Homo sapiens: one gene and its partners. The protein of the gene in region 3 purifies or fractionates together with the protein of the main gene of each other region. This does not show direct contact. Each region holds a gene or a part of one and is shown on either strand. Other genes may lie near its edges. The genes, in order: MCCC1, OBI1, FAM83A, VWA8 and IQSEC1.

Region 1 (5,174 bases), on a different chromosome or scaffold from region 3:
TCCTGCCTCAGCCTCCTGAGTAGCTGGGACCACAGGCATGTGCCACCATGCCCAATTAATTTTAGTAATTTTAGTAAGGATGGGGTTTCACCATGTTGGCCAGGCTGGTCTCGAACTCCTGACCTCAGGTGATCCACCTGCCTCGGCCTCCCAAAATGCTGGGATTACAGACGTGAGCCACCACGCCCGGCCTATATTACATTTTTCTATGCAGCTGGATCCTGTTTCCCATTAGATAGGGCAAGAGCAGAAATCATTTCTTACCATCTCTGTTCCAGAGGCCCTAGTGTAGAGCAAATGCTCTGTAAGTGTCTGTAGCACAAACAGATGCATTCATGTGCAAAATAACTCTGCTCACACAGCACCAGAACTGGCAAAGATCCTAAAGAAAGAATTCTACCAATATGTGGGTAATTGGGCTAGCTGGCTTCGAATTCCTTCAATACACATATCCCCAACACAGTCACTTAACAATGAAACAGTGAACTCAACCATGTTCCACTGAAGGATACAAACAGCATTCTCCGAAAGGGGGCAAACAGCAATGTGAAATTTCCATCACAGCACCTTTTGCTTTTCCCTCTATTTTTTTTTTTTTTTTTTTGGAGACAGAGTCTCACTCTGTTACCAGGCTGGAGTGCAATGGCATGATCTCGGCTCACTGCAACTTCCGACTCCCTGGTTCAAGCGATTCTCCTGCCTCGGCTTCCCAAGTAGCTGGGACTACAGGCGCGTATCACCATGCCCAGCTAATCTTTGTATATGTAGTAGAGACAGGGTTTCACCATGTTGGCCAGGATGGTCTCCATCTCTTGACCTTGTGATCCGCCTGCCTCAGCTCCCAAAGTGCTGGGATTACAGGTGTGAGCCACCGCGCCCGGCTGCTTTTCCCTCTTTTAAACAGAGAAAGTTTTGTTTGGAAAGGGGAAACGGCACCCTTGCTAAAACTGTAACTTTCGACATTGTCATAGACTATGTTGCATTGCTGAAACAGAGTATCACAGACTGGATAATTTATGAACTAATTTATTTCTTACAGTTCTGAAGTCTGGGAAGTTCAAGATCAAGGGGCCGGTGTCTGGTGAGGGCCTTTTTGCTGTGTCATAACATGGTGGAGGGCATCACATGGCAAGAGGGCAAGAGCGAGCCAGCTCAGGTCTCTCTTCCTCTTTTAAAGCCACCAGTCCCATCATGGGGGCCCCGCCCTGATGACCATATCCAATCCTAATTACCTCTCGAAAGTCCTACCTCTAATCAACACATGAACTTGGGGATTAAGTTTTTAACACGTGAAACATAGGGGACCCATTCTAATCATAGCAGACATGATTTATGTTTTACTTTTCCAATTATAGGCATCTTAAAGTACGGAGACCATCTTTTATATTTCTCTGTATTTTCCACAACATTTAGCATAGTCTTATGTATTCAGCAAGAACTCAATTCAACAAATATTTAACACTTCAATGAATACATAAAAATGCAAAGGGCTGCACATCTGTTAGTAAAAGTAACACAGAATCTAGACAAAAGTAAACTGAATGGTTTTTCTTCATAATGAAAAAAGTATTTCTAAAAAAAGCATTCAGCAGGCTCAGGCTTTTAACTCTTACCAACTTTTTCTGTAAAATTATGCTTTTCAAATTTACCAAAATGTTATATTAAATATTAATATATTTTAGCATGTAATAGATATATAATACATATATTTTTATAAGCTTAGAAAGTACAATAAAGGCAGAGGCAATCTAGTTAGAAACTTTCCAATCACAAACACTAGAAACAATATCCGTGTCTTTACTTATTTATATTTATGTATTTGTTTTGAGATAGAGTCTCGCTCTGTCACCCAGGCTAGAGTGCAGTGGTGCGGTCTCGACTTACTGCAACCTCTGCCTCCCAGGTTCAAGCGATTCTCCTGCCTCAGCCTCCCAAGTTGCTGGGACTACAGATGTTCACCACTACACCCAGCTTATTTTTTGTGGAGACGGGTTTCACTATATTGGCCAGACTGGTCTCGAACTCCTGAACTCAAGTGATCTGCCCGCCTTGGCCTCCCAAAGTGCTGGGATTACAGGCGTGAGCCACCGCGCCCGACTAATATCCATGTCTTTTAAACTACCTAGCAAGTTGCTTTTTGGCCAGACAAAACCTTAGTTGTTGAACTCCAGGGCACCTGTCTCTGAAACATATTACTGCTCATTTTCATCATAACAGCAACTGGAAAGTAATTCATTTAATTAAATGTCCTTTTCTCTTCCCCCCTTCCTAAAAGAGACTACCTTGTAAAAAATTTGAGGCAGAAACAAACATTGGCTTCCAATAAAAAATAATTCAACTTTATTAGTATGAAATATTTTGAGATAATTAGTGACCCAAATGCATGATTCTCCAATATGAAAGGTGTTCAGCATAAGCATACAATCATTTAGTAAAACTGCTCTTTATGAGACCCCCAGAAAAGCTGGAGGCACTTCCTCTTTTTGGTGGAGAGAGAAGACACTACTTAACTGGCCATTTCCTTGCTGGAGTTTATTCCGATTCCCTTTTGTCTGATTCTTCCTCCTCAAACTCGACTAAAGGAGTGTGTCTGTTGGCCTGAGCACCTTCTCTGTAGAACACTTTCTTTACTGTGCCATCCTTTGGAGACTTTATGGTATGCTGCAGAGACACATGACAGGACAAATGATAGCTGCAATACTAATGAGGACTGAGTATACACCAAGTCAAGAAAGGGAGACCAAAAATGAAAACTGTAGCCAACTTTGATGTTTTGTCATCTCTCGGTGCTTTCCAACGCTTTGTTGTTGTTGTTGTTTTTATTTTTAACATCACAGCACACAGGGAGAACAGTAACAAGTTGAGAGGAATGAACACTGGGACACAGCAGTAACCTTTCAACGATATGACTGGGAAGCTCTGGTGTAGCTCGCAGTTCTCAACTTGAGCTTCACATGAGAATTGCACCTAGGAAGCTTTCAACAGTTTTTTGTTTGCTTGCTTTTGTTTTTTTTTTTTTGTTTTTTGTTGTTGTTGCTGTTGAGACGGAGTCTCACTCTGTCACCCAGGCTGGAGTGCAACGGCATGGTCTCAGCTCACTGTAACCTCTGCCTCCCGGGTTCAAGCGGTTCTCCCACCTCAGCCTCCCAAGTAACTGGGACTACAGGTGTGTGCCACCACACCTGGCTAATTTTTGTATTTTTAGTAAAGACGGGGTTTCACTATGTTGGCCAGGCTGGTCTTGAACTCCTGACCTCATGATCCACCCACCTCGGCCTCCCAAAGTGCTGGGATTACAAGCGTGAGCCACTGCGCCTGGCCTTGTTGTTTGTTTTTTTAAATTGAGACGGAGTCTCGCTCTGTCACCCAGGCTGGAGTGCAGTGGCAAGATCTCGGCTCACTGCAACCTCTGCCTCCCAGGTTCAAGCAATTCTCCTGCCTCAGCCTCCTGAGTAGCTGGGATTACAGGCATGCACCACCATGCCTGGCTAATTTTTGTATTTTTAATAGAGATGGGGTCTCACCATGTTGGCCAAGCTGGTCGTGAACTCCTGACCTCAAATGATCCGCCTGCCTCTGCCTCCCAAAGTGCTGGGATTACAGGCATGAGCCACTGCGCCCAGCCTTTCAAAAGTATTGATCCTTGGGCTCTACTCCTGGAGATTGCAATTCAATGGGTCTGGGGAAGAATTTTTTCAAATCTCCCCAGGTGACTGTACACATGCTCCTTGACTTACGATGGGGTCAGGTCCAGATAAATCCAATGTAAGCTGAGGAGCATATTCAACGTGTATGGTTTTGCACCATTGTCAAGCTGAAAAATCCTTAATTGAACCATTGTAAGTTGAGGACTGTCTGCAATATTCAGCCAGGGCTAAGAATCACTGACCTACCATTTGAACCATCTAAAAACCTAAACAGCTAATTTAATTTGATTGCGGTTTTCACTTTGAAACTGATGCCTGGCATCCTTGGTTCGGCCTTAGAACCAAGATAATACCAACAGTTAACATTAGAAAATACCAACAGTTAACATTCCAGAAACACCAACAGTTAACATTCAGTTGGATTATCTTAGAAAATACCAACAGTTAACATTCAGTTGGATTATCGCCTGATTCCAAGCTATTGATAATTTCATTAATTTCAGAATCAGAAATGACAGGTGCAATTTCACAAAGTTAAAGTAAAACTCTTTTCTACAAGAAGGATAGTTTGGTTTTGTTTCCTACAATTAATGCTTCGTCAATCATGGCTTTTCATATTTAAGGTGGTATTAACTTACAAAATAAGGCAAAAGAACCATTAGGTATGATTGCTCCCAAAGTCCTCATAGCAAATGAACTCATGATTTCCTTACCTCCATCTTCATGGCGATCATAACCATGAGGGAATCTCCCGCTTTCACTTTGTCTCCAGCTTTGACAAACACCTTGAGATTCAGTGTGACAGGTTAATATTTGAAAACACAGAGGTCCTAGATATGTTCATCTGCTTCATTATAGTAACCATTTTACTGTCTATATATACTCATAACATCATGTTGCAAACCATGAATATAAACAATAAAACATAAATAAAAAGAAAAAAAACAACACAGAGGTCCTTTGTGGTCCACAGATTTGGTATATAAACTTACAGAGCAGAAGTAGAGCCCATGTGGTTGTGCCATCTGCCAAATGCACTGGTCAAATCAGAGGCCTACAGCCCAAATATACAGGTCAAATCTGAGACCTACAGCCCAAATGCACTGGTCAAATCAGAGGCCTACAGGTCAAATGCACTGGTCAAATCAGAGGCTTACAGCCCAAATGTACAGGTCAAATCTGAGACCTACAGCCCAAATGTACTGGTCAAATCAGAGGCCTACAGCCCAAATGTACTGGTCAAATCAGAGGCCTACAGCCCAAATGTACTGGTCAAATCAGAGGCCTACAGCCCAAATGCACTGGTCAAATCAGAGGCCTACAGGTCAAATGTACTGGTCAAATCAGAGGCCTACAGCCCAAATGTACTGGTCAAATCAGAGGCCTACAGGTCAAATGCACTGGTCAAATCAGAGGCCTACAGCCCAAATGCACTGGTCAAATCAGAGGCCTACAGGTCAAATGCACTGGTCAAATCAGAGGCCTACAGCCCAAATGCACTGGTCAAATCAGAGGCCTACAGCCCAA
Region 2 (6,284 bases), on a different chromosome or scaffold from region 3:
ATATTTTCCCCCAGCTTTTCTTCTCATCCCATATCCTACCTTTATTCATTCATACCTAAGTGATATTTCATAAATTCTCTCAAGGAAAATAGTTCATCCATTTTTGCATTTGGATAGAACATCCTGAAAAAGAACACCTGTAAAATACCTTTGCTATTATTATAATGCTAAAAAATACAAAGAAGGTAACCAGAGCATCAGTGAAGAGCTCTCAGGAAGAATTCATTGTGAGTGCATTTGTAACAAGTCATGACATAGAGTTAATGCCATGACTTACAGTCCATTGTAACTAGCCTGTTAGAATCCGTGAAAAGACACATTAATCTATATACATAGGTATATAGCAGTAATACTTTTTTTTTTTTTGAGACGGAGTCTCGCTTTGTCGCCCAGGCTGGAGTGCAGTGGCGCAATCTCGGCTCACTGCAAGCTCCGCCTCCCGGGTTCATGCCATTCTCCTGCCTTAGCCTCCTGAGTAGCTGGGACTACAGGCGCCAGCCACCACGCCCGGCTAATTTTGTTTGTTTGCATTTTTAGTAGAGACAGGGTTTCACTGTAGCCAGGATGGTCTCTATCTCCTGGCCTCGTGATCCGCCCGCCTCGGCCTCCCAAAGTGCTGGGATTACAGGCGTGAGCCACTGCACCCAGCCAGTAATACATTTTTATATAATCTCTTGGTTAAATGTAAATGTAATAATTGGTTTTATTATTTAAATATAGTCTAGTTTTCAGAATTTGAAGTAGTCCAAATGTGATAATTACAGCCCTTTCCTCCACTGAGTTTGCTGTGATAAGATATGTAGATATGTAAATACAATATGATGTGTTACTGAAGGTATTTCTTATGGTGTTATTTGATATATTTTTTTTTCCTCAAGATTAGGGTAGAGAAAAGGCCTAGATGTAAGCCCCAAGTGTGTATGTAAGGGGAAGGGTAGATGTGAAGCTGGGAAGCTATATAAAACAATATGAAAAAGGATCATTTTCATTCTTCCCGAATCAGAATGAAAAATTAGGATTTTTTTTTTTTTCCCTACAGGAGGAACAAGTGAAAGTGAACCTATGCTAAGCCATACGGTCAGGAAGCATCTTCGGAAAACTAGACTTGAATTACTACACAAAGAATATGAGGTAAACAGTAATCAAAGTTTAAAATTATGTTAGCAGTGAATTCAAGGTAAAAACTGACCTACCTCAGTCCCCAGACTTCTTAGAGTAAATATCCAATGAAATTTTATTTTAAAAGCCTATAAAAAGAAATTGTTTGATAAATTCTTTTTTCTTTTTTCCTTTCGTATTTTAAATAGAGGAAAGAGATTTTTTGTTTTATTTTTTTTCTTTAAGTACCAAGGAATGGGGGAATGGGATTCCAGAAAAAAGGAACAGATGGAAGCATTTCTTTCTTTTTTTTTTTTTTTTAAGTTAAAATTTGTACCTCCACAGACATATCATTTTGTATTTGCTTCCTCAAGAAGTTGGGAGAAAAAGGAAATCTCCTTGTGAAAGCCAGTCTGACCTCTGCAGTCATCAGTTGCTTCTGCCTATGAAGTTACTGATGATTATAAGCCTGATCAATTCTAGTAAAGTAAATACTATACCTTATGTCAACTGCCAGCACAGAGATTTTAGTGTGAAACATGCTGTTTCCTAATTATTGTCTAAAGGTGAATGAACAGGATGATTGGACATGGTGATGCTATTTTTACAAATAAATTCATGCTAATAGAATACATACACTTTTGAATAGTACACATTAAGCCCAGTTGTCATTTTATGTTGACTGAAGAAGGAGATATCGATCCCCTCTTGACTCAAAATATCTTTCAGTTTAACTGTGTACATGGAAGGTGCCTCAACTGCCTCAAAAATTTTTGGAATGCAGTGGGGTATAAATACATGATTGAATATATGTTTATTCATATATGTGTTCCTTACATATATGAATTTGCTTGTTTTATGAAAATGCTATTTAAGTTGAAATGTATTGCAATTTAAAATAGTAAGTAGTACTATCTGTGTGACATTTAATGCTAAAATGTATTTTTATATAATGAATATTTATCATACTCAGATGGTAAACAAATTAATCCTTTGGGAGATCACTTGAGCTACTTGGGGGTTTATTTTCTAGCAGAATTTTTAACAACCTCAATTTAAGGTGACATATTTATTATAGATGAATAAATGGCATCATAGTAAGAAGTTCTAACCCAAATGTTTAGTGACTGGTTTTAGGATAATAAACATTTCCAGAGTGGGAAGGCTAATACTTGCAATAGTCACAGTAGTAATTGAAGAACCAGAATCCAGAAAAGTTGAAAATTCAAAATTAACTACAGATATTATTCTGGAATGAAAAGTAGAAGGAAATGGTAGATGGTTTCACTCATACTTCAAATATAGAAGTGAAAGTATAAATATCAAAACCCTAACAATCCTCTTTTTCTTTTTTGAGACAGAATCTCATTCTGTCACCCAGGCTGGAGTGCAGATGGCATGATCTCGGCTCACTGCAACCTCCGCCTCCTGGGTTCAAGCAATTCTCCTGCCTCAGCCTCTCAAGTAGCTGGGACTGCCGGTGCCTGCCACCACACTCAGCTAATTTTTTGTATTTTTAGTAGAGGCGAGGTTTCATCATGTTGGCCAGGCTAGTCTTGAACTCCTGACCTCAGCTGGCCCACCTGCCTTGGCCTCCCGAAGTGCTGGGATTACAGGCACGATCATCTTGATAACTCTGTACAGTCAGCCCACCATATCCAAGGATTCATCATCTGTGGATTCAAACAACCAAGATTGAAAATTAAAAAAATAAATATATATAAAAATAATGTAGTTTAATAACTATTTGTATGACATTTACTTTGTATTGGTTATTATAAATAATCTAGAGATGACTTAAAATGTATGGAAAGATGTATGTAGGTTATATGCAAATACAGCACTAGTGATTTTCCATCAGGAACTTGAACATCCATGGATTTTGGTATCCCTAAGGGTCCTAGAACCAATCCCCTGTAGATGTGGGGATGAGGTGGGGACAAACTGTACCTTTTTTTTTTTTAACCCGGCCCCCCTCAATGTACTTTCAAATTCCCCTCAGTAAAGCAGTTGAGTATGCCTCAAGTTTTTTGTTTTTTTGTTCTTTTTTGAAATGGAATCTACTTCCCTGTTGGAATTCATGTGACTTTTCTTATTTTCTGGATGATATCTTTTTTTTGTTTGTTTGTTTTGTTTTGTTTTTGTTTTTGTTTTTGTTTTTAATTATACTTTAAGTTTTAGGGTACATGTGCACATTGTGCAGGTTAGTTACCTATGTATACATGTGCCATGCTGGTGCGCTGCACCCACTAACTCGTCATCTAGCATTAGGTATATCTCCCAGTGCTATCCCTCCCCCCTCCCCCCACCCCACAACAGTCCCCAGAGTGTGATATTCCCCTTCCTGTGTCCATGTGATCTCATTGTTCAATTCCCACCTATGAATGAGAATATGCGGTGTTTGGTTTTTTGTTCTTGCGATAGTTTACTGAGAATGTTGATTTCCAATTTCATCCATGTCCCTACAAAGGACATGAACTCATCATTTTTTATGGCTGCATAGTATTCCATGGTGTATATGTGCCACATTTTCTTAATCCAGTCTATCATTGTTGGACATTTGGGTTGGTTCCAAGTCTTTGCTATTGTGAATAATGCCGCAATAAACATACGTGTGCATGTGTCTTTATAGCAGCATGATTTATAGTCCTTTGGGTATATACCCAGTAATGGGATGGCTGGGTCAAATGGTATTCCTAGTTCTAGATCCCTGAGGAATCGCCACACTGACTTCCACGATGGTTGAACTAGTTTACAGTCCCACCAACAGTGTAAAAGTGTTCCTATTTCTCCACCTGGATGATATCTTAAATAGAATCAAAGATTTGGCATTTTTAAAAATCACAACTAACATTGAATTAAAATGAAGGCAACATAAATCCCAATTTTTATCAGTCAGGCCACATTTTGAGAATTTAAACTGTATGTGACTTTCTCCCTGCAAAACTCTTTTGATATGTAAAGAATCTATGTATCTACAGAATTTTAAGTACAAAATTCAAACCATGTTGGCTTCAGTTTAGCATATGTATGTATGTGTTTAGTGTCTATGCCTGCCTCATGACTATGCAATGCTTTTTCAGGACGAAATAGATTGTTTACAGAAAGAAGTAGAAGAGCTTAAGAGTAAAAATCTCAGCTTGGAGTCACAGATCAAAACTATTCTGGATCCTTTAACCTTGGTGCAGGGCAACCAAAATGAAGACAAACATCTAGTCACAGATAATCCAAGTAAAATTAACCCAGAAACTGTAGCAGAGTGGAAGAAAAAACTCAGAACAGCTAATGAAATCTATGAAAAAGTGAAAGATGATGTGGATAAGCTAAAGGAGGTAAGTTGTGGTTTTTAAAAATCTATTATGGTTGTTTTTAAAATAAGTACCTTCAAAAGCATAAATAGCCATATTATCTTGACTCATCATCAGATGATTTGTGAGGAAAGGACAGAATCTCTGGATGAGCATTTATATGCAATAAGAAGACTTTTTCTTATTTAAATATCATTAACTGCCAAGAAATATCAGGTGGTTCCATGTGTGACTATAATTAGAGACTGTTGTGCTTCTGTATAAGATTGCATCTTCTTCTAGAAGAATAATACCAATTTAAAGGATGTGTTTCTGTTTCGTCCTCTTTGTGGTTTGCCATAGGTTTTTTAAGCTTATATCAGCGACTTCCCCTGTGTACCTAAAAACAAACACATAACCATTTTCGCACCAATGAAAGGAAAAGTTTTGACCTTATCTTTTCTTTTGCTACCACTCTCTTATTTTTAAGATTGTAGATAGATAAAGACTTGGTGACTAATTCCAGGACAGCAATAAGCAGCTGCTTCAGAGTACCTCATGCAAAAGAATGTTGTGATTTATGAAACTGGTTCATTTTTTTCAGTTTTTCTTTGAACGAGATACAGCATGGTGAAAAAGGCAAACCTCTAGGATTTTTCGGCCTAGAAAGGGAGATAAGATCCATGCCATCAGCACTAGATGTTACAGGCAACTCCTACAACACCATCTTGACCCAAGTGATCAGCCTTTAGCTTGAGTTCAAGTTTATCCACAGTGGAGTCCTCTTGTGCTGAAAGGAGATGGCTTTGTAGTACTCAGTTCTACAATCACATATTCAACTATTTGCATTTCCTTAAAATACTATTCCTGTGTGAAATTACTAAATCTTATCTCTCAAAATTATTAATGAGCTCCATATGGTATTTTAAAGGAGTTCCCCTGTATATTGGCTCTCAGGTCCTCAGGTTAAGTAGCAGAGAAATACTTGCAACTTAGATGTAAGCCATCTTCCACATATAAAATAAATGTTGTTTGGGCTCAGAAAAGGCCAGGGTGAGGAGAAGAGAGAGCCTAGTGCTTTTAGATAAAAAAGAAACTACAGACATAATTGTACTGAGTTTGTTATAAGTGTGTAGGAGGGAGAAGTGCATAGTTTCTTTGGGTATTGATGACCAGTGTTAGTACCTTGATTTGTTAGAAGACAATAGGATACTAAAAGGAATGCCAACTCGGAAATTACAGTATTTATCAATTTGCCTTGTTCCCTTTAATTTCCCTGGTTCTTCTTGAGCCATTGGTAAGCACTATATGATCTCCTTTGTAGTTATTAAACTTCGTTTAAAGTTTTGGCAGTAAATATTTCTTAGAACATGAGGCTTATAAGGGTGATATGAGGGATGGATATTAAAGAAGAATACATAAAGCACAGTTAATTTTCCTTTGCTCTTTTAATGGTCAAATGTTAAATTCAATACTCAAAGCTACCCTGGGACTTCAGAATTCTTTGGGATATTGAATAAGCCCATTTTCTATGCCTAGTGATGCTAGTAGGTAATAGGTTATAAACTGGGACATAAGTGAATGAAAAAACATGGACTGCAGAGATAAAAACTAAAGTGTGGAGTAATAACATACTCAACATAATCAAATACAGGAATACAAAAGATTCAGAATAAAGGATTACTTAGCATGAATGAAGTGGACTTTTTTTCTGATGTTACCTGGAATGGGTGAGTTTTGAACCATCGTGAGGCCAGTGTCATTACCCAATCAGTGTTGAGAATGCAGAAGGGTTAGCTGAAATATTCATTATTCTTTTAGGTGCAAAAGGTAGGCAGAACTCTGCCCTTCATAACTTTTATTCACCTAACCTTCTTGAACTTGAAAAGATCTCTGATA
Region 3 (6,698 bases):
GGCTGCGTCTCAAAAAAAAATTTTAAAAGAAAAGAAAAAAAAAGCTAAAGCATGAGATGCGCGGGTGTGCAGGTGTGGCGGGGCTCTGGGGCGGGGCACAGTGCAATCGGGGACACAGGTGCTGGGGACCTGAGGAGTTGCCAGGAAGTCTTTGGACTTGTTCTTTGGACTTGTTCTTGTTCTGTTGAGCAAAGCAGCAGCTATGTTGCCCCATGCAGCCTGATTCAGACAACAGAGGGCGACTGGCTTCTGAGTGCAGTGCGGCCCTTTGTCCCTGCGCTTGCCTCCTGTCCCGTGGCGGGGCTGGCGCTTGGCTCGGCATCAACTGCTCACCTCTCTGGGGGTGTGGGTGGTTCCCGGCGGGAGGTGAGATTTAAACAAAGCCTCATTGCTGTTCCCAGGATTATCCGAGCCTTGTGCGGCCCCGCCCTGCCTCACAGAGCAGGGAACTCCCAACCCTGGGCTGAGGCCAGGCCTTTGGGTGGCAAGACAGGTGGGCTGGGGGCTGGGGGCTGCGATCCTATCTTTGACGGGCCCGTTTCTGCTTAGCTCTGGCGCTGTCCCGGCTCGGCGACCATTCCCCCGACCATCCTCTCCCTCTTGCTTCAAGTTCACCTGAGCAGGAGCCCAGGAGCCTCTAGCCTGCTGCTCTCGGGAGGTCTATGCTGTTACCAGAGTTTCAAGCATTGAGGGGGCGGGGGGAGAAACGAAAGGAGTTTTCCATCGGAAACAGAAAAGAGTTGGGGTTAAATCTGGGAAACAGGCCGGGCGCGGTGGCTCACGCCTGTAATCCCAGCACTTTGGGAGGCCGAGGCGGGCGGATCACGAGGTCAGGGGTTCGAGACCAGCCTGGCCAACATGGTGAACCCCTGTCTCTACTAAAAATACAAAAATTAGCTGGGCGTGGTGGCGGGCGCCTGTAATCCCAGCTACTTGGGAGGTTGAGGCAGAATAATCGTTTGAACCTGAGAGGCGGAGGTTGCAGTGGGACGAGATCGCACCATTGCACTCCAGCCTAGGTGACAGAGTAAGACTCTCAAAAAAAAAAAAAAAAATCTGGGAATCATACAAAGTAATAACTGCCTTAGGCATTTTGTTTTTCCCTAAAACCTGTAAGTGGTGGCCCCAGGCCTCTCCTTGAGGGTGTCTTCCACCACCCCTCGCCCCGACAGCCTCGGCCCCGTGTCTGGGTGCTTCCTCCATAAACCACTCCTGTCAGCGTCAACGGGAGGCGCACGGTGCTCCTCCTCCACTCATCCCTGCTGGGTCCCTGTGCCTGAAAATGGAGCCGAATCCTCTTTCAGGAACGCTTTAGATTTTCGTGAAAACACAGTCCGGCTTCCCAAGAGCAGCCGCCTTTTGCAGGGGCTTTCCCGACCCCTGTGTGGTTAAAGGCGCGCTGGCCCTCCACATTCCACAGGTGGAGACGAGAAGGCCCCGGCTGCTGGGTGACTACCCTAAGCGCAGACTCTGGGGGCCTGAGACTCAGCTCCCTTCTGCCTCCTCAGGGAGCCTCTAAGGGGCTGCAATCTGAGCACCAGGAGGGAGCCTTGAGACCAGGGATTCGCTCTGGCATCTTAATTATTCACCCGCAAACACATTCTGGCCCCTGAGCCTCAGTTTTGTCGTCTGTAAGAGAGGTGTCGCAATGTCTCTCTCTCAGGGTTTCTGCCAGGATGAAATGAGCCCAAGAGGAGGGGCAGTGGGCATGGGTTGGTCCCCTTCCGTCCCTGCCCCGAGGGGACCCACAACTCCCAGACTGGTCCCCCAGGAGGATCTTGGGGCCTGGGCCGGCGAAGCCTCCTATCTGTCCTCCTCCTCCTCCTCTTCCTCCTCTTCTTCCTCCTCCCCCTCCCCTCCTTTTCCTCCTCCTCCCCTTCCCACTTCCCTTCCCCCTCCCCTCCTCCTCTTCCTCTTCCCCCTCCCACTTCCCCTCTCCCTCCTTCTCCTTCCTCCACCTCCTCCCTCCCTCTTCCTCCCCTCCCCCTCCTCCTCCACTTCCCCTCCCCATCCTTCCCCCTTCTCCTCCATCACTCTCTCTCCTCTTCCCCTCCAGCTTCACCTGGCTCTGCGGACACGTGCACCGGAACATCCTCTCCAAGTTCACAGGCCAGGCGGTGGAGCTGTTTGACGAGGAGTTCCGCCACCTCTACGCCTCCTCCAAGCCTGTGATGGGCCTGAAGTCCCCGCGGCTGGTCGCCCCCGTCCCGCCCGGAGCAGCCCCGGCCAATGGCCGCCTTAGCAGCAGCAGTGGCTCCGCCAGTGACCGCACGTCCTCCAACCCCTTCAGCGGCCGCTCGGCAGGCAGCCACCCCGGTACCCGAAGTGTGTCCGCGTCTTCAGGGCCCTGTAGCCCCGCGGCCCCACACCCGCCTCCACCGCCCCGGTTCCAGCCCCACCAAGGCCCTTGGGGAGCCCCGAGTCCCCAGGCCCACCTCTCCCCGCGGCCCCACGACGGCCCGCCCGCCGCTGTCTACAGCAACCTGGGGGCCTACAGGCCCACGCGGCTGCAGCTGGAGCAGCTGGGCCTGGTGCCGAGGCTGACTCCAACCTGGAGGCCCTTCCTGCAGGCCTCCCCTCACTTCTGAAGGTCCCATCCCCTGCTGCCCTCCGCAGGCCCAGGGCTGGGCACTCCCTGAGACCCAAAGACCCACCTCAACGACGAGTGGCGTTGAGCCACTTCCCTTTGAAAAGACACTCAAAATCACTGCCATGGTTCAATGTTCCCAGGCCCCAGGCCATCCACTTGCCGGCCCCCACCAGTTCTTGGGTTCCCCGCTCTAGTTTGACCTGTGCAGCACATTCCAGAAGGTTCCAGGGAGGTTGTGGGGCAGCTAGAGGACAAAATCATGAAAACAGAGTCCCTGTCTTCCAGAGATCATCCGGGGCTTTAATATTAATGGCCCCCAAAACTCCGTAAGAAGCAGGAAATGCAGCCCAAGTTTTACAAATGGGTAAACAGAGGCACTGAGAGATAGATGGTAGTTTGGTACTTCTGGTTCCCAGTGCCCAGGAATGGTCCACTCCCAAGAAATTCAGGAAAGAAAGACTGAGGAGAAGGTGTGGGAACATTCTGGATGTTTCGGGAGAGTTGGGGAAACTCCTCCTCTTAGGAAAGGCTAATACTAGGGTATCCTTGGGCCCAATGAATTAGGGGTGAGGCCCCAGAACCCGTTATCTATGAGTTGTATGGGGGAGCCATCTGAAGCTGTAGCCACCAGGGATGCAGCTAGCTGAGGAGTTTGGGGTGTTGGGTTGGACAAGGCAGGTTAGTAGACTCAGATTCTTGCTTCAAAGAGCCTTGGGCTGGCCTGGAGGTCCCTGGAGTCTAGACTGGACCTAGGAGCTTGAGTTGTCAGGGGCCAGGACTGGCCCCACTGCAGTGCCCAGGCCAGTCTTGAGCAGCAGGGAGGGCTCAGCTGTCCCCAGATCCAGGTGCCTCTGACCAGCCTGGTCACCTCCTGAGGAATAAATGCTGAACCTCACAAGCCCCATCATTCATTTCTTCTCAATTCACAGTGCCCCTCTTTGTTTCTGGGGTGGAACTAGGTCCTGAGGGCACAGCCTAGCTGAGTGCAAAGAAATATAGGATGCTTAGAAAGCATACAGGAGGGGCCAGGCGTGGTGGCTCATGCCTGTAATCCCAGAACTTTGGGATGCCAAGGTGGTTGGATTACCTGAGATCAGGTGGATTACCTGGTCTCGAGACCAGCCTGACCAATATGGTGAAACCCCGTCTCTACTAAAAATACAAAAATTAGGCTGAGACAGGAGAATTGCTTGAACCCAGGAAGCAGAGGTTGCAATGAGCTGAGATTGCATCACTGCACTCCAGCATGGGCAACAAAGCAAGACTCCGTCACAGAAAAAAAAAAAAAAAAGAGAGAGAGCATAGAGGAGGGTTGGCCAGCCCTGTGGTGGGTGGGATGTCAGAGACACTTCCCAGATAAAGTAAGAGTTAACCCTGCACCTCAGGTGTGATAGTGGGGTCAGTGGTATGTGATCCAGGCTGGGGAGCCAGAGGGGAGCAGGTGCCAACTCCACATCCTTCTCCTGTTTCTAGGCCCTCTCCTCCCTTGTCGGTTTTTGGCGGGGAAGCTCAGCCTTCGCTGTGGAGGGACGAGAGCACAGAGCTCTTCCTCCTGGTGGCCTCTGACCCCTGACGGCCTGTGGCATCCTCCCTAGTCCCCTCTGCCCATCCATCCCTCTGTTCCAATTCTCCACTGCTCCCAGCATGATCTGGGGCATCTTGGCTTCTGGTTTCTTTTATTATTATTATTATTATTAATTATTGTATTCCTGTCCTTCACTTTTTTCCTCCTTAGTTCCTGAAAGTAAACAAAACAAAACAAAAACAAAAAAACAAACAACACTTTGGTTCCTGATGGCTTTCTGAACCCAGCCCTGACCTTGTTGTTTCACAGCTGACGGCTGAGATGAGGTTAGAATGACTGGGCCCGGCTGAACATTCCAAATTGGATTTCACCATCTGCTGAGAAAGTTTAAGGAAGGCAAAGCTTGCCAGGTCACAGAAGCTCCCAAGCCCAGCTTTCCAAAGGCCTCAGCCTGTGCCTGTGTCGAGCTCAGTCCTGGGAGATAGGGGAGAACCTGCAGGCAGGAACAAGCCCCCCTACTCCTGACCACCCTCCATCAGCAGTCTCCCCTCCGTGGTCGTCTTTGTTGACAAAGGTGCAGTTTCTCCTCTCCTGGGCACCTGTAACATGTGATGCGCTGCCTGCTGGGAGGTTAGGTCGGGGCTGCCCCGGCGAGTGGAGCATGAGCAGAACCGCCGAGGGTCACTTCTGGGCAGAAGCTTTGAGAGCCTGGGTCCAGGTTGCCACATAGAAGCAGCTCTCCAGTTGAAACCCTCCTCTGCCAGCCTGGGGTCCTAAGCGATGAGCAGAATCCCCCACTCCCACCCCACCAACCCACAATGGATATGTAGTGAGCAAGAAATAAACCTTTGTTGTTTAAGCCACTGCGATTTGGGGATTGTTTCTTCCTGCACCATGATCTAGCTTTGCCCGAGTGATACAGCCTCTGAGACCCCCCAACTCCAGGCTAGGCCATTGCTCTGGATTCCCAAGACCCCCCGACACATACACTATTTCCACCACAGGATTAGGGGTGGTTTGACACACCTGGCAATTGTCTATCTGAAAGCTAGAAGAAGTCTTTATCCAACTTTCAAATCCTACAAAACCGGGTCACGTTCCATCTTTAATTCTGCTCTGGGTTATAATCACACCTGTACCTCCCTCACTGCGGCCTGCTTGCTAGAGTGTCACTCCGTGTCTTTAAACATATGGAGTCTCTACTACAGTGTGAATTTCAACAGCTGCAGCTTAGCATCTCTTATGTGCCAGGCACTGTGTCAGCTCCGGAGAGGGCTGGGAGGGACCTTCATGTGAACAGCCACCATGAAGAACATGAGAGAATGAAGAAATACTATGATCTTCATGTCCTGGGGTACCTCACCTAAGGTCAAACACATCCCCCAAACCAGGGACTTTGGATCATAGGACCTATCTACAGGACAGTCAGCCAACATGGACTGAGGTGTGGGTTGCTAATGATCAACGCTGCTCCTCAGAGCCCCTGTCTCCTAGGAATGATCTGTTACCTGCACTTGGTCCTCATCAGATACTGCTCTCCTGTCTCTCCATTTACATCATAAGAGCCCAGAGACCAAAGGTATCTCTCTGGACCCACAGGTCCAGAGCTACATTGGTGCCACAGACAGTCCAAGGGCACAGTCAGTCCTCCCTGGTTGAACACTGGTGAGGAGCTTTGCTCCTACAGGGGAGACGAATAATCAGATACCCCAGACCACCTTCACTCTCTGTCCCTCCAGAATGTAGGGGAGGAAGGGCTGCCTCGCCTTCACTTAGTCTTCGTGCTGACCCTGCTAGCCTGTCATGAAAATGTCAAAGCAGCTTCTTCAAATAATTCACTTTTTTTTTTTTGAGACAGTCTTACTCTGTCGCCCAGGCTGGAGTGGCGCGATCTTAGCTCACTGCAACCACTACCTCCCAGGTTCAAGCGATTCTCCTGCCTCAGCCTCCCAAGTAGCTGGGATTACAGGCGCCCGCCGCCACATCGACTAATTTTTGTATTTTTTGTAGAGATGGGGTTTTGCCATGTTGGCCAGGCTGGTCTCAAACTCGCGACCTCAGGTGATCCACCCACCTCAGCCTCCCAAAGTGCTGGGGTTACAGGCGTGAGCCACTGTGTCCGGCCCAAATATTTCACTTTCTGAACTTGATCCAAAAAGCCGGTGGACACAGAGAAACTGTCACTCACTTTCCTAGCTTCCTCTTGAAGAGTGTCTCTGTGTTGGAACTGTTATTAGAGGATGTAAATACTGCAGACACACGTGCAAACATAAACACAACCTCCTCTTGCTGTTGTTCACTGTATTTCGTTTGACCCAGGCATTGCTTCCTAGGGCGCTCCATCCTTCTTTCCTCTGTAGCGTGTGGTGAAGGAGAGCATGAAACCATGATGCAGCACACGGGGCGGATGGAGAGACGCGGCGCAGACGACGGCGGCGCGCCGGGGAGGCTGAAGTCCACCATAGCTATGCTTGCCAAGGCCACCTTCCCCTACTGCCCACTCCCTGAGTCAGGCAAGGACGCCCTTCACAAATTCACACAAAGACACTTTCTAGGCTAGTGGCCTTGACTTGAGAACAGAGA
Region 4 (6,284 bases), on a different chromosome or scaffold from region 3:
AAAGAGAATACCTTCTGCATCACATATTTAGAAACGTCTTCATAAAACCACCAAAAATTTTAAATTCTTAAATTAAGAAGCACTTAATTCTTTGTGATTCTTAAGAAAAATCACTTAATGTCTTTGTGATATTTCTTAAGTATTACAATATTGTCTTTGTTTTGATTTATCACTATAACCTTCACTGTCAGGTTGCCAAGAGGTTGCTGCTTTAAAAAAAAAAAAAAAAAGAACAAATCTTGAGCTTTTCACTGTTTTTATCATTTGCAGAGTAATGTTATCCTGTTGTTAGATACTACTGGCCGGGCCCTTCATCGTCTCATCCTCCCTTCCGAGAAGTTTACATCTAAGAAACCTTTCTGGTGGAACAAAGAAGAAGCTGTAAGAAACACCACATTTGTCCCACAAATTGCCAAGGATTTCTATAGCTTTCTAACCAGAAAGATGCATGCATGCCCATCCCTTTAAGTGCCTTTTTTGTTGTAATGCACAAGAGAATTTCCTGTTATGCACGTATAGATTTTAACATGATATATATAACCATAGATATGTGTATAATTAAATATCAATAAATTCTTTTTATGACATTATACTTGCATGAAGATTTGCCAGGACTGGACTAACAATAAGAGAAAATTAAAAACTATTTGAATATCGTATTTTTAACAAATTTCTGATCATGGAGTCAATTTAACCTGTTTTCCAGTTATGTAGTTATGTTTTGGATTTATATGATGAAACTGTGAGTATGATACCTAATTTCCTCCATTAGACAAATAAGTGTTTTAGTTTATTAACTAAATTAAACTAGTAAGTAAATAGTTTAGGCCAACACAAGAGAATTTATTCTGCCATTCAGAAAAAAATAATGGATTTAAAATAAGGTTTACCCTCTGCCCTGCAAGTCAACATACTTAGGTCTTAAAAGACTATGAAAAGAGTGATTTTTTTTAATGTCATAAATGTATCCTAATATAAGAAACAAAGTGTTTCCCATGTGTTTATTTTATGGTGTAAATTCCATGGTTAATCATCAGATAGCCTGTTATTTCTTAACAATGTTTGGTGTTGTTTTTAAAAATTTATTCTGAAGAGGCTTTAGTACAAAGTTCACAGTAAATTTTGATATATAGTTTAATCCATTTTACCATAAGAGTCTTAGAGCAGATAAATAGATAGCTTGTTTGAGAATTACATGTTTTACTAGTTGAAGAACTTTATTTTATTTAAGGGGAAGTAGCTAAAGAGGGACATGACTGTATCTGACACATTTAATATGAATATCTTGTTTTGTTTGTCTTTAGGAAACTTATAAAATGTGTAAAGAATTTTCACACAAAAACTGGCTGGTGTTCTACAAAGAAAAAGGGTGAGCTCTTTATTATAGAGGATTTAAACTGGAGTTCTTATTTGGCCCATTCTATTTCCTATTTTGATTATACTTGTTTACTATAAAGTGAATGTAACCAAATTATGAATGTTTTAATATAAAGTAACTTGCCCACATTGCAGAATATTGAGAAACAGATATAAGAAAAGCTAGTGCTCACAATTCCATGACATAGCCACTACTAACATGGCAATGGTTACTACTTTCCATTATTTTTACTTATACACACCCTGACATAGTTTAGAATTTTGCATATCTGTTTTTTTAATTAACATTTTTCTATATTATTACTTAATCTTAAAACATTCTTTTTATGGGTTGCATAATGTATCATGAAATGATTATGCCAGATTACTCAACCATTATCCTCACCATTTCCTTTCAGATACAGTTTTCTTCTTTTCCAGGAACAGCCTGACTGTGCTGGATGTTCTAGAAGGGCGAACTCACACCATCTCACTTCCCATCAACCTCAAGACAGTTTTCCTTGTAGCAGAGGACAAATGGCTTCTGGTGGAGAGCAAAACAAATCAGTGAGTGGCTTTATATAGTGTATCATGGAGTATGTTGTAGCTCAATCTTATTTATGAATTATCCAACATCTTTACTGTTCTGTCTTTCCTGTGTCTGTCCTTTAACAATTTCTGTGTTTGGCAGCATCTCTATATATGAGACTTATAAGAATTGAGGAGGGGAGAAAAAATAAATGTCACTTCTCAGAAAATGACATTGAAATTAACAGTTAAAAAATCATGACTTTTTCATATGATCCATATTTATTTGGGCTTTTTCCTATTTGTACATTGAGAATTCACTGTATTCTTGCTAAACTGGAGACACTTCAAAGTAGATTTTCCCTTCAAAGAGCCACAGTCTCTATCCTAGAGCTGTTGCCTCTTTGTAAATTCACAGAGTTCACACCTTAGAAGTGTCTTTCTCTTTTTATCTTGTGTATTCTGGTTTGGATGTGGTTATGTTTATGTTTATGTTATCTGACCCATTGGACTGTGCAGTTCTTGATGAAAGGCGGTGTCGACTTTGAGCACCTTCCCTCATGCACAACTCCACTAGCTAAGTGCAGACTCTTTCTGCCCCTCTGCTGACAAGCAGAAGTATCTCATTGCAGAGGATTTCTGCCTATATATACATCCATATTTTAGAAATGTTAAAAATAAGTAGATCAAGGAGACTACAGTTGTGAGGGCATCTATCTCCTAGCTGATCACAAATCAGAAGTCATACTCCCCCTTCCTGGCTGATCAAAGAGTTTTATCAAGAGAGGGTTACATGATAATAAGAGTGCACCCCATTAGAGTTGCTTCCCCTCCCCACAACCCTTTCTCTTATAGGAAGCATTGGATTTTTGCCTCACATTCATTACTGTATTGCTGTTGTGCACTGCTCTTTAACACAGTGTTGAGAAGTTATTTGTTAATTCATGATGAAACTCTAAAACTGCAAATTATACTGGAACTATAAAAAAGAGACTGAGGAGAATCTAATTTTTCTTAGTCTGGCCTTATTACTATTAGAAAAAGAAAAATTTCACTTAAGCTAGATGTTTTGTTTGTTTGCAGGAAATATCTTTTAACTAAGCCTGCACACATCGAATCTGAGGGTAGTGGGGTTTGCCAGTTGTATGTGCTGAAAGAGGAGCCGCCCAGCACAGGGTTTGGAGTTACACAAGGTAAATACTATGTCATCTGTGTTTATGGCTGTGTGAGTGCATGCTTGTACATATACTGTCTTCTAGAATCATTTAAGAACAAAACACCAGCCTATGTTAAGTTTACACCAAAAGAAAAAACTTAGTCACTACACCAGAAATAGTAAATAAGAATCTAGTATCTCAAATTGTCATAAGGAAGTTCACTGTTGTAAGCTCTGTCCTTGAATTTTTTTAACTGACAGATCAGTATTTTTATATACATTTAGGTTGCAAGTCTAATTTAGGATAACATCTTTTTTCTGCAGACTATTGGGATTTCTATTTAATTTATCACAGTTTTGGGGGATGAATAGTACTTACGAAAAAAATCTAAAACATACCATTGCCAACCCTTGGTTGGGTCAGTTTTTACATCTTTTCTACAGGGAGCTATTAATTATAATATTTATTCCTAATAAAATTTTGAATTCTGTAAATACTTGAAATCACTTTGGGAAGATGCCTTGATTATAAAAACAGCATTTTTTCAAACAAAAGCCCATGAATGTAATTTAAAATGTTTTCTCTTTTTTAACTTGTTCTTTTCCATTTGACTTGTTGAGAATAAAATCTTGCAAAAAATTAATTCCTGGAGCATTTCAGGAGCATATGGTGTCTAATGTTTGTACTTTTCAGAAACAGAGTTCAGCATACCTCATAAAATTTCCAGTGATCAACTATCATCTGAACATCTAAGTTCAGCTGTGGAACAAAAGATTGCCTCTCCCAACAGAATTCTCTCAGATGAGAAAAATTATGCTACAATAGTTGTTGGTTTTCCAGATCTCATGGTAAGCACCCATTTTTTAAATTATCGGATAAATGTTTCTTTCCCTTAGTTTGACCTATAATCTGTAAGCCTGTTTGAGGGGTAATTAAAAACATAATTTCCTGGTAAACATGTTGGATCAAGTCTTCCTTCCAAATCAGTCAGTAGAAAATATGTTATACCTAAATAGTTTCATTACACTTCAAAAATTAACATTGAAAGCGTAATGCAATGATAGAATTTAGTAGGGGGAAATGAGTATTCTCCATATGTGGGGGTTCATGTAATACAGTTTAAATGCTTAACCTTCTGATGGTAATTTTCTGTCATGTCTTCTATAATTTTTTAAAGTTAATTATTTTTCCATCTACACATTCTATATATTTATTTATTAACTTTTATTTTAGGTTCAAGTGTACGTGTGCAGGTTTGTTATATAGGTAAATTGCATGTCACAGGAGTTTGTTGTACAGATGGTTTGGTCATCCAGATAATAAGCATAGTACCTGATAGGTAGTTTTTTGATCCTCACCCTCCTCCCACTCTCCACCCTCAAGTAGGTGTCAGTATCTGTTGTTCCCTTCTTTGTGTCCGTATGTCCTCGATGTTTCGCTCCCACTTGTGAGAACATGTGATATTTGGTTTTTTGTTCCTGTGTAAAGTTAAATTTGTTGGATTGTCATTATTGTAGATTAAAATTTTCAACAGTCATGAAGATAGATTTATTTTCCATTGAGTTTTGCTCTGATTTATCATATCTTTGCAGCATCCAGGTTATAGTATAATGGCTAATTGTCTCAATTGATTTTCCTCTTAGATGGGCCCTTCTGTTATCTCCTATTACCTATAAAGGAGAAGCTATTTGAATTGACTGTAGGTGAAACTGGGCGACATCTTCCTCTGATGGAAATGTGGGGAAATTAATTATAAAAGTTATTTCAGTCCAAGTTGCCATCTAACAACCTTAGATGTAGCTCCATGTGTTCTGACTAAACATTTAATTTTTATAATTTCCTTTGTAGCTTTTAGATGGGATGATAGAATTATTTAAAGATAAAAATATGGGCTCTGCTTGACGGTACTCCAATTTTGTATGCCTCAACATTTTAATATAGTTAATGAATGCTGGGTACTTCAGGATATAAGATTTGAAATCTAAAACTCAATGGATAATGTGGCTTAGGACTCTGATGTATGTTTTCCTAATTATCAAGTTAAAAGCATCTGCTATCATGTAATTCAAAATGAAACGTTATTGAAATACAGTGTTTATAGCAGCCTTGATATGAAAGAGATGTGTTTTATATGCTTTCTACAATGTTTGCTGCTGTAAAAAAAAAATTGGGACTTTTTCTGGAGATAAAACTATTTTAAAAATTGATCTTCTAATTACCTTCTTCTGATTGAAGAAATCAATATAGAAGTATAATGTTATTATAAAAAGTTAGAAAATAAAAGCTAAGTTAAGGCACTGTTTCTATTAACCTTGTAGAAATTCTTATAGCCTGTAACACTAGTGACCTTGTTAAATTAAAAGCTATATCCCTGCTACTTAGTGTGGTACCTACCACATAGGAGGTATTTAATGAGTATTTGTTAAATAGAAGATTAGAGTCAGCTAGGCAGCCTTTAAGATGACAGTAATACTTTTAGGCCACAACAGAATAGGCAGTGTGCTGCTCTAAGCCCTTTCATACATGATAGTTAATTTTTACAACAATTCTATGAGGTTTTACAAATGAAAAAAATAGAAACAGACAGAGCTTATATCCCCTAGGCCACAAAGATTATAAGCAATGGAATTTGAGCTCAAGTGTGACTAGCCAGCCCTCTAACACACATCCTTTTACCACACCACACTGCCTTCTTGCTTTATGTGAACTTCTTTGGATTATGTATGAAACTATTGACAAATGAGTATGCTACCTCTTATTAACTTTTTCATAGAGTTATCAGTGGCATCTAAATTATTACTTGTATAACTTTTAAAATCTAATACCAAATAGCTATAAGAATCTGTAGCAAATATCATCCTCAATGGTGAAACATCAAAAGTATTTCTTTTCTTTTCTCATTAGAAATAAAACAAGGTTGCCCACTGTTACCATTCTATTAAACATGGTAATAGTGTCTTAGACATGATATATAAAGAGAAAATTGATAAATTGTGCTGCATCAAAATTTAAAATTTGAGCTCTGTTAAAAGACACTGTTAAGAGAATGAAAAGACAATCTACAGGCTGGGAAAAAATATTTGCAAACCACATTTCCAACAAAAACTGGTATCTAGAGTCTATAAAGATTCTTAAAACTTAACAGTCAGAAGGCAAATAGCCTAATTTTACAAATGAGCAAATAGTAGGCCAGTGTGAGTTATCAAAGATCAGAGCCCAAGCAAGGTAAGGACATCTATGGTG
Region 5 (6,284 bases), on a different chromosome or scaffold from region 3:
GCGTCTGCTTAGGCAAGCACCTACCTCTGACCCACCTGCCACCATCTTCCACCAAAGGATCCGTGAAGGACAGGTCCGACATCCACATCCTCCCTGGGCCTCAGAGGAAGCGTAAGGCCTGGATTGGCCCCAGCCCCGGGGCAGGACCCTGCTGGGCCTTGGTCAGCCCATGGTCAGCATCTTTTCCCAAGTGCCCCAAGCACAGGCACTGGGCCTAAGCCTCCTGCTCTATGTGGTGGGGCTGATACTCCCCTTCCAGGGTTTGCCTGCGGGCCAGCAAGCAGGCTGGGCCCCAAGCTCAACAAGTGTCACGCCATCCTTGTCCCTCCCTGGAGGCCCTTTGTTGAAGCCCCCCAAGGCCCCCTGTGCCCCTAAAGGACCTGGCACCATCTCCTCAGGGCCCTGGCCTGCCTCCTTGCACTGACTCACTTGGTCTTTAAGAATAACAACAAAAGTGCCTTATCTTGTTGAATCCCACAACTCTGGCAGGGTGGTTGTGTGCCATCCTGTTTTCCAGGGAAGTGCCTTGCTCAGGGTCACAGCCAGTGAGTCTGCCTGACTCCAGACCCTGCTCCTCCCCAGCCAGATCTGTGTGCCCTTGTGGGTGGGGCCAGTGGGCACCCAGTGCACAGAGATGGGATGAGGAAGGGAAGGAGGGTGGTCAGGGGGCCCAGGTGTTGGGGGACCTGACGCCTTACCCTGAGCAGGTTCCAGATCTCTTGGCCGCAAGGCTCTGTCCCTCCCCACCCCTTCCCCACTGCATGCACTACCTGGAATGTGTTGGTCACTGCCACTGTGGCATGGCTGCCCCCAGCCTGCTTGTCCTGGGTGCTGAGGGTACTTGTCCCACAGTGGCTGGGAGCCCCCCACCCAATGCCTGTGGACCAGACCAGTTTTGTCACCACCAGTGGGGGCTTAGGAGGCGTTGCTCCTGGGTGCTGGCTAAGCTGCTCCCAGGCTTACCTTAGAGCCTGCTGCTTTCCCCCAAAAGCCTACTGACGACACAGCCCCCGTCTGCCCTTCCCGCTCTTTCCAGCCTGTTGGATGGCTCCTGTTCTCTCAAATCTCACTCTTACCCCCAGGAGGCTCCCTGCAGGCAGAGTGGATGAAAATATCCTGCCCCTTGGTCTCTGAGGCCCTGGCCCACCTGGGGCCTTACAGAGCAGGACAAGGAGGCTCCACTCCAGCTCTGTCCCTGCCTCACTATGTGACCCTGGGCAGGCTGCTTGCCCTCTCTGGGCCTCTGACCTCATCTGGAAAGTTCCTGGTTATGCTGCGACACACAGGGGACTGGGAGTGGGAGGAGTGGTGTCTGCCAGGCACAGCAGCTCCAGGCATGCTGGCTCATTCACATGGCCCCATCCTGCCGATCACTCACCCATTCATTCACTCAGCCCACCATGGTCACTGGACATCTAGTCCACGTCCTGACACACGCCAGGCCTGTGGGCTACGCCTGTAAATGGACCAGGCCCGCCCTGCCTGCATGGAGCTACCGCCCAGAGAAGGGACACAGTAAATAAGACCTGGTGGCACCTGCCAGAGCGGCTCCTGGATACAGCTGGGAAGAGAACGGGGTGGGGCAGTGGGCGCCCCTTCCTGCACACACCCCTCTCTCCTCAGCCGCTCTGGGGCCTGAGGCCCTCTCTCCTGGTCCTCCTGGCCTCCCACGATCCCACAACGTTCCAACTCCTGCCCAGCCCTGCCTGGAAGGCTCACCCTGCCACACTCTTGCCCATGCTGGCTCCTCTGCCGGGAGTGCCCTTCTTCCCCTTCACCTCAGACCTCACAGCCCAGCCTGTGCCTCTTTCCTGACTCCCCCAGGCAAATGGGCCCCCTCATAGAGCTCCCGCATGGCGCGTGGCGAGTCCTCGCTGTGACAGACACAGTGCCGGCCCCTCTGTTGTCACCAGCTGCCCGGAAGTCCTGCCTTTGCTTTCTAGCATCCCTGAGGGGCCTGGCCTGACAAGGTACAAATCACCATTTTTAAAATTGTGGTAAGATAGACAGAAAACTTCCTTTTTTAAAGCTGAACACTGTTGCGTTGTGCAGATCGACCACATGTTTGCCTTTTTTAATTACACACATTTCAGCGGCAGTAAGTGCATTCACAGTGCCGTGCAGCCAACACAGCATCCATCTCCAGAACTTCACTTTCCCAAACAGGGCTCTGTGCTCTGTAAGCGCAGACTCCCATCTTGCATCCCCAGCCCCTGGCACCCACCATTCTGCTCTCTGTCCCTGTGAATATGACTGCCCTGGGGATGTCATGTGAGTGGAATCAGACAGCATTTGTCCTTTCCTGACTGGCTTACTTCACTTAGCCTCATGTCCTCAAGGTTCATCCCTGCTGCGGCAATGGGCAGAACTTCCTTTTTAAAGCTGAACACTGTTCCATTGTGCGGATGGACCACATTTTGTTTGTCCATTCACCCATTGATGGACACTGGGTTGTTTCTGCCTTTTGGCTGTTGTGAATAGTGCTGCTGTGAACATGGGTGTGCAAATACCTCTCCGAGTCCCTGGTTCCATTTCTGTTGGGTGTATACTCAGAAGTGGGATTGCTGGGTCAGATTGTGATTGGATGCTGACTGTTTTGAAGAGCCGCCATACTGTTTTCCACAGCAGCTGCACTGCTTTACCTTCCCTCCACCACTGCACAAAGGTCCTGGTTTCTCCACATCTTCGCCATCACTCATTACTTTCTGTTTTTCTTTAATAATAGCCATCCTAATGGTGTGAAGTGGTATCTTGTGTTTTTAAATTTCCCCCTCTTGAATAAAAGTGTGAGTGATGAAGTTTAGCTTACAAAAGGGATGGTTACGTCTTTGTTGTTTTTCAAATATAGTCATATAACTGAGAGATTATTCATCCACATGGTACAAAAAAAGGCTGCACATATTGTCTATTTGGTTCCCTTGCTTCTTGTTCTTCTGCCCAGAGGCCACGGCTGTGTCCAGTTCCTTTGGGTCCTTGGTGAATTTCTGTGCATTTATATGTGTGCTTCATCATTGAAGTGCTCCCTCAGCAAGCTGGTGACACAGAGCAGTTTAGTTTTCCCACCACTGTTTTGTGGTTTCTGGATTTGAGCCAATGAAACGCTCAACTTGGGGGATGTGTGACCAGCCGGCCCCTGCAGGAGGTGGTGGTCTCCTTCCATGGGAAGCCCTGGCCAGCTGCTTGCAGTGGGGCCTCCATGAAGGAAGCCAAGCCCTGTGTGTCTTCCCCAGGCAGGAGAAGGGAGGCTGGTGGGACTGGGCCTGAACATTCCAAGATGAACACCCCCACACATCTCCAGGAAGCCTATGCGTCAAGCCTTCATCATTGTCACCTTAGCTGGCTCTCCGTCCAGGTCAGTCCTGGGCACAGTTATCAGCATCTCTTTGACAGTGGGCCCCAGATTCAGGCAGAGCTGCCAGAGGGCATGTGGGAGCAGGGCCAGCCTAGGTTGTGCAGGACAGGCCCCCACACCAAGAATCCACACAGATATTTATGGGCATGAAAATCTGCGAGCAACTATCCGAGTCTGGTCCTCACTCCTCTTGACATCTAAACCACAAAATGCATTTTGTATGATTTGAATATGCATTGAGTTTTCCAGGAATGCAACTGCTCTCGCAGTCGAGGGAAGATCAGACTCTGATATGTTCGGAGCTCAGCCAAGAGCTGCCACCATTCAGAGCACCACATCACCAAGGACAGCATCTCTCATGGTGCCAGAGTGCCCAGTGAACTCCAGCATCCATCTGGGTTTGTGGTCGCTGTCACACGACCAGGCAGGTGACTATAGGGTAGGCCCACCCACGATTAACATGACAAATTACCGTTTATTTTATTCTAAATTATTTTCCTCTTTTTTTTTCTCTGTAATTTTACCATTCAGCCATTCTCTTGGTTCTGTTTTAAATATGTGTGTGGATGGATCACATGAGTCATCAGCTTCATTTGAGAAGAGAGAAGAGGATAGTGCAAAGCTCTGGATTTAAGGAGCGGGGTGCTGGACAAGGGATCTTTGTGGTAATGGAGCTATTGTGTATTTTGACTGTGGTGGCACTTGTATGTGCCTGTATGTGTGTGCATGCGTGTGTTTAGTTCTATGCAGGCGTATCATGTATGCAGGCTCCACGGTACAAGCAAAATCGGAAAGCTACCTAAGATGGGAGGACAGTGCAGTGTCAGAATCCTGGTAGTGATGGATCCTATAGTTTTGTAAGATGTTACCATTGGGGGAAACGATGTATATAAGATCTCTCTGTATTGTTTTTTGTTTTTTTTTTTTTTACAACTGCAAATGAATCTACGATTATCTCAAAATAAAAAGTTTAATTTTTAAAAGGTGAGGGTGGGTATCAGGTCTGACAGGCTGAGATCCCTGGTAATTGAGGACAGCAGACAGCCAGTGACCTCCCAGTCTCAGTTCCTTGGTGGTGCACCATGGTCACCAACCTCTACTGCCCTCCACTCCCTGACACCTGAGACACCTTGGGCCCTTCTCTCCAAGGCTGCATCCCACCAGGGGCACTGGGGCCGGCCCCTCACCCCAGAAAGGAAACACAAGTCCCTTTTGCTGCCAGCTGGGGCCTGGCTGGCCCCCAGGGGTTCTGAGTTTCAGACCCTGCTCTGCCAGCAGGCAGTGGTTTCAGCTGGCTGATGGAGCAGAGGTCTTATCCATTGTCCCCCAATGCCTCCCAGAACCGGGGCCCCAGCCCCAGCCCAGGCCTCTTCTCAGGTGGGCCTTCCTGCTCCCCTGGGCTTGCAGAACAGCCCTGCTGACGGCCACTCCTGCCCTCCTCTGCCCTGTGCCCGCAGCATTCCTGATGACACAGTCACCATGCTTGTCTGTGCCTCCTGCCACCACAGTGGGCAGCTGGGACAGAGACAAATAACATTCCATCAAATGCCATTTTGAAGACAAAAATGGACCAGTCAACTAAAGCTAAAAGGTTAAGGGAAGGAAGCAAGTACTTTTTATGACTTTGTCATTCTACAAATTGACTGTTCTATGAATTAGCTTTCAGTGAATTGACTTGTCACTGGTTGAAGGAAAGCTGGGACATGGCTGGTGAGGTTGTGGGCAGGACTAGGGCAGTGAACAGGGCAGTGGGGAAGCCAGGCTGGGCGTGGTGTCGGCTCTCTGAGGGGCCAGGCTTTGCCCACTAGACTGCCCAGCCCAGGAGTCCCGGCTCTCCCTCCCCTGTGCATCCCATTTCCTGAGCATGAGCTTGGGATATCAGGGCTCTGAGGAGCTGGGGCTGCGCCAGAGATGCCCGTCCCCCTTTATATCCCATGGCGTGACCTTGCCACACTGGCCCGACCTCCGAAGGATGAAGGTCCTGTCAGAGCAACCCCTGTGGCTCAGCAGGCGGCTGACCTGAGCGTGGCTAATAGAAAAATGTTTTATTGGCACCGATGGCTTCATCCCTCATCAAGATGTCCCTGACATCTGCTTGGCATGGTTACTAAGGGAAGTGATGCATCTTAAATCACCAGGGCCCTGGCTGAAATTCACTGCCTGTATCTTAAGGCTCTCATTGGCCCCACGATAACACCGAGCGTTTTCCTCCCATTTGCTCTCCACCATCAGATAAAAGAGAAATGCCCTCAAGTCTCTCCAACCCCCTTCCTTGTTCGGGTGTCTGTCCCCTGGCCATCTCTGGGCTGCAGAGAGGTCAGGCCACCTCAGAGGAGCTCTCCAAGACCAGGTGAGCTCAGCAGATGTGGGGTCCAAGATCTGGGGGTAATCAAGACCTTTCTCTGTGCCTCCCCTGCCAGGACCCCACCCCTCTCCAAGGAGCTGCTCAGATGGAACTCCTTATGTGCTGCCCAGTGTCTGTGTGACTTGGGGCAGAAGACAACCTCTCTGAACCTATTTCCTTTTCTGTAAAATGAGGCTAATAATTCCAGCTTTGCAGGGTGGCCATCAGGACAGAATGAGGTAATAAGGCCTGTGGTATCTCTGTGACCTATAGAGATTATTCCTGTCCCCTTCCTCCCCTGGATTCTCACGGCACAGGGCTGGGCTTCAGGACGTGCTAGGACTTAAGAAATGTGAACATCTGGGAAGGGAAGGGAAGGGAAGGGAAGCTGGGCTGTAATGGTGTATCCATCAGGAGCCTTTGGGTGGCAAACGGCAGAAACTCAAGTCAAAGGGATTTCCGTGATTACTGTCAGTGAATAGCCCACGATCTGGCTTCAGTGTGGCTGGCTCCAGGGGCTCCAATGCTCCTGTGGCCATGTCCTGTTCACCTTTCCCCAGGACACGTTCCTGTGTGGAGGCTTCAGCC

The links.
Region 1: the proteins of FAM83A (region 3) and MCCC1 purify together in Homo sapiens (affinity purification with mass spectrometry; one large-scale study listed by BioGRID and IntAct). This does not show direct contact.
Region 2: the proteins of FAM83A (region 3) and OBI1 purify together in Homo sapiens (affinity purification with mass spectrometry; one large-scale study listed by BioGRID and IntAct). This does not show direct contact.
Region 4: the proteins of FAM83A (region 3) and VWA8 purify together in Homo sapiens (affinity purification with mass spectrometry; one large-scale study listed by BioGRID and IntAct). This does not show direct contact.
Region 5: the proteins of FAM83A (region 3) and IQSEC1 purify together in Homo sapiens (affinity purification with mass spectrometry; one large-scale study listed by BioGRID and IntAct). This does not show direct contact.

Annotation. Positions count from the first base shown.
Region 1 is NC_000003.12:183,012,906-183,018,079, forward strand, and holds the end of MCCC1 (methylcrotonoyl-CoA carboxylase subunit alpha, mitochondrial isoform 1 precursor), read right to left. Parts: intron 4,433-5,174; coding exon 4,361-4,432; intron 2,662-4,360; coding exon 2,533-2,661; 3' UTR 2,313-2,532; downstream 1-2,312.
Region 2 is NC_000013.11:78,636,969-78,643,252, reverse strand, and holds part of OBI1 (ORC ubiquitin ligase 1), read left to right. Parts: exon of another isoform or gene 1-227; intron 228-1,039; coding exon 1,040-1,131; intron 1,132-4,181; coding exon 4,182-4,430; intron 4,431-6,284. UniProt on the Homo sapiens protein: E3 ubiquitin ligase essential for DNA replication origin activation during S phase.
Region 3 is NC_000008.11:123,205,101-123,211,798, forward strand, and holds the end of FAM83A (protein FAM83A), read left to right. Parts: intron 1-2,056; coding exon 2,057-2,588; 3' UTR 2,589-4,325; coding exon of another isoform or gene 4,326-4,396; 3' UTR 4,397-4,424; coding exon of another isoform or gene 4,425-4,435; 3' UTR 4,436-4,978; downstream 4,979-6,698. UniProt on the Homo sapiens protein: Involved in mitochondrial maintenance during adipogenesis. May be acting by playing a role in the maintenance of normal mitochondrial function.
Region 4 is NC_000013.11:41,686,959-41,693,242, reverse strand, and holds part of VWA8 (von Willebrand factor A domain-containing protein 8 isoform a precursor), read left to right. Parts: intron 1-270; coding exon 271-381; intron 382-1,304; coding exon 1,305-1,369; intron 1,370-1,797; coding exon 1,798-1,923; intron 1,924-2,967; coding exon 2,968-3,077; intron 3,078-3,734; coding exon 3,735-3,889; intron 3,890-6,284. UniProt on the Homo sapiens protein: Exhibits ATPase activity in vitro.
Region 5 is NC_000003.12:13,061,999-13,068,282, reverse strand, and holds part of IQSEC1 (IQ motif and SEC7 domain-containing protein 1), read left to right. Parts: intron 1-6,284. UniProt on the Homo sapiens protein: Guanine nucleotide exchange factor for ARF1 and ARF6. Guanine nucleotide exchange factor activity is enhanced by lipid binding. Accelerates GTP binding by ARFs of all three classes.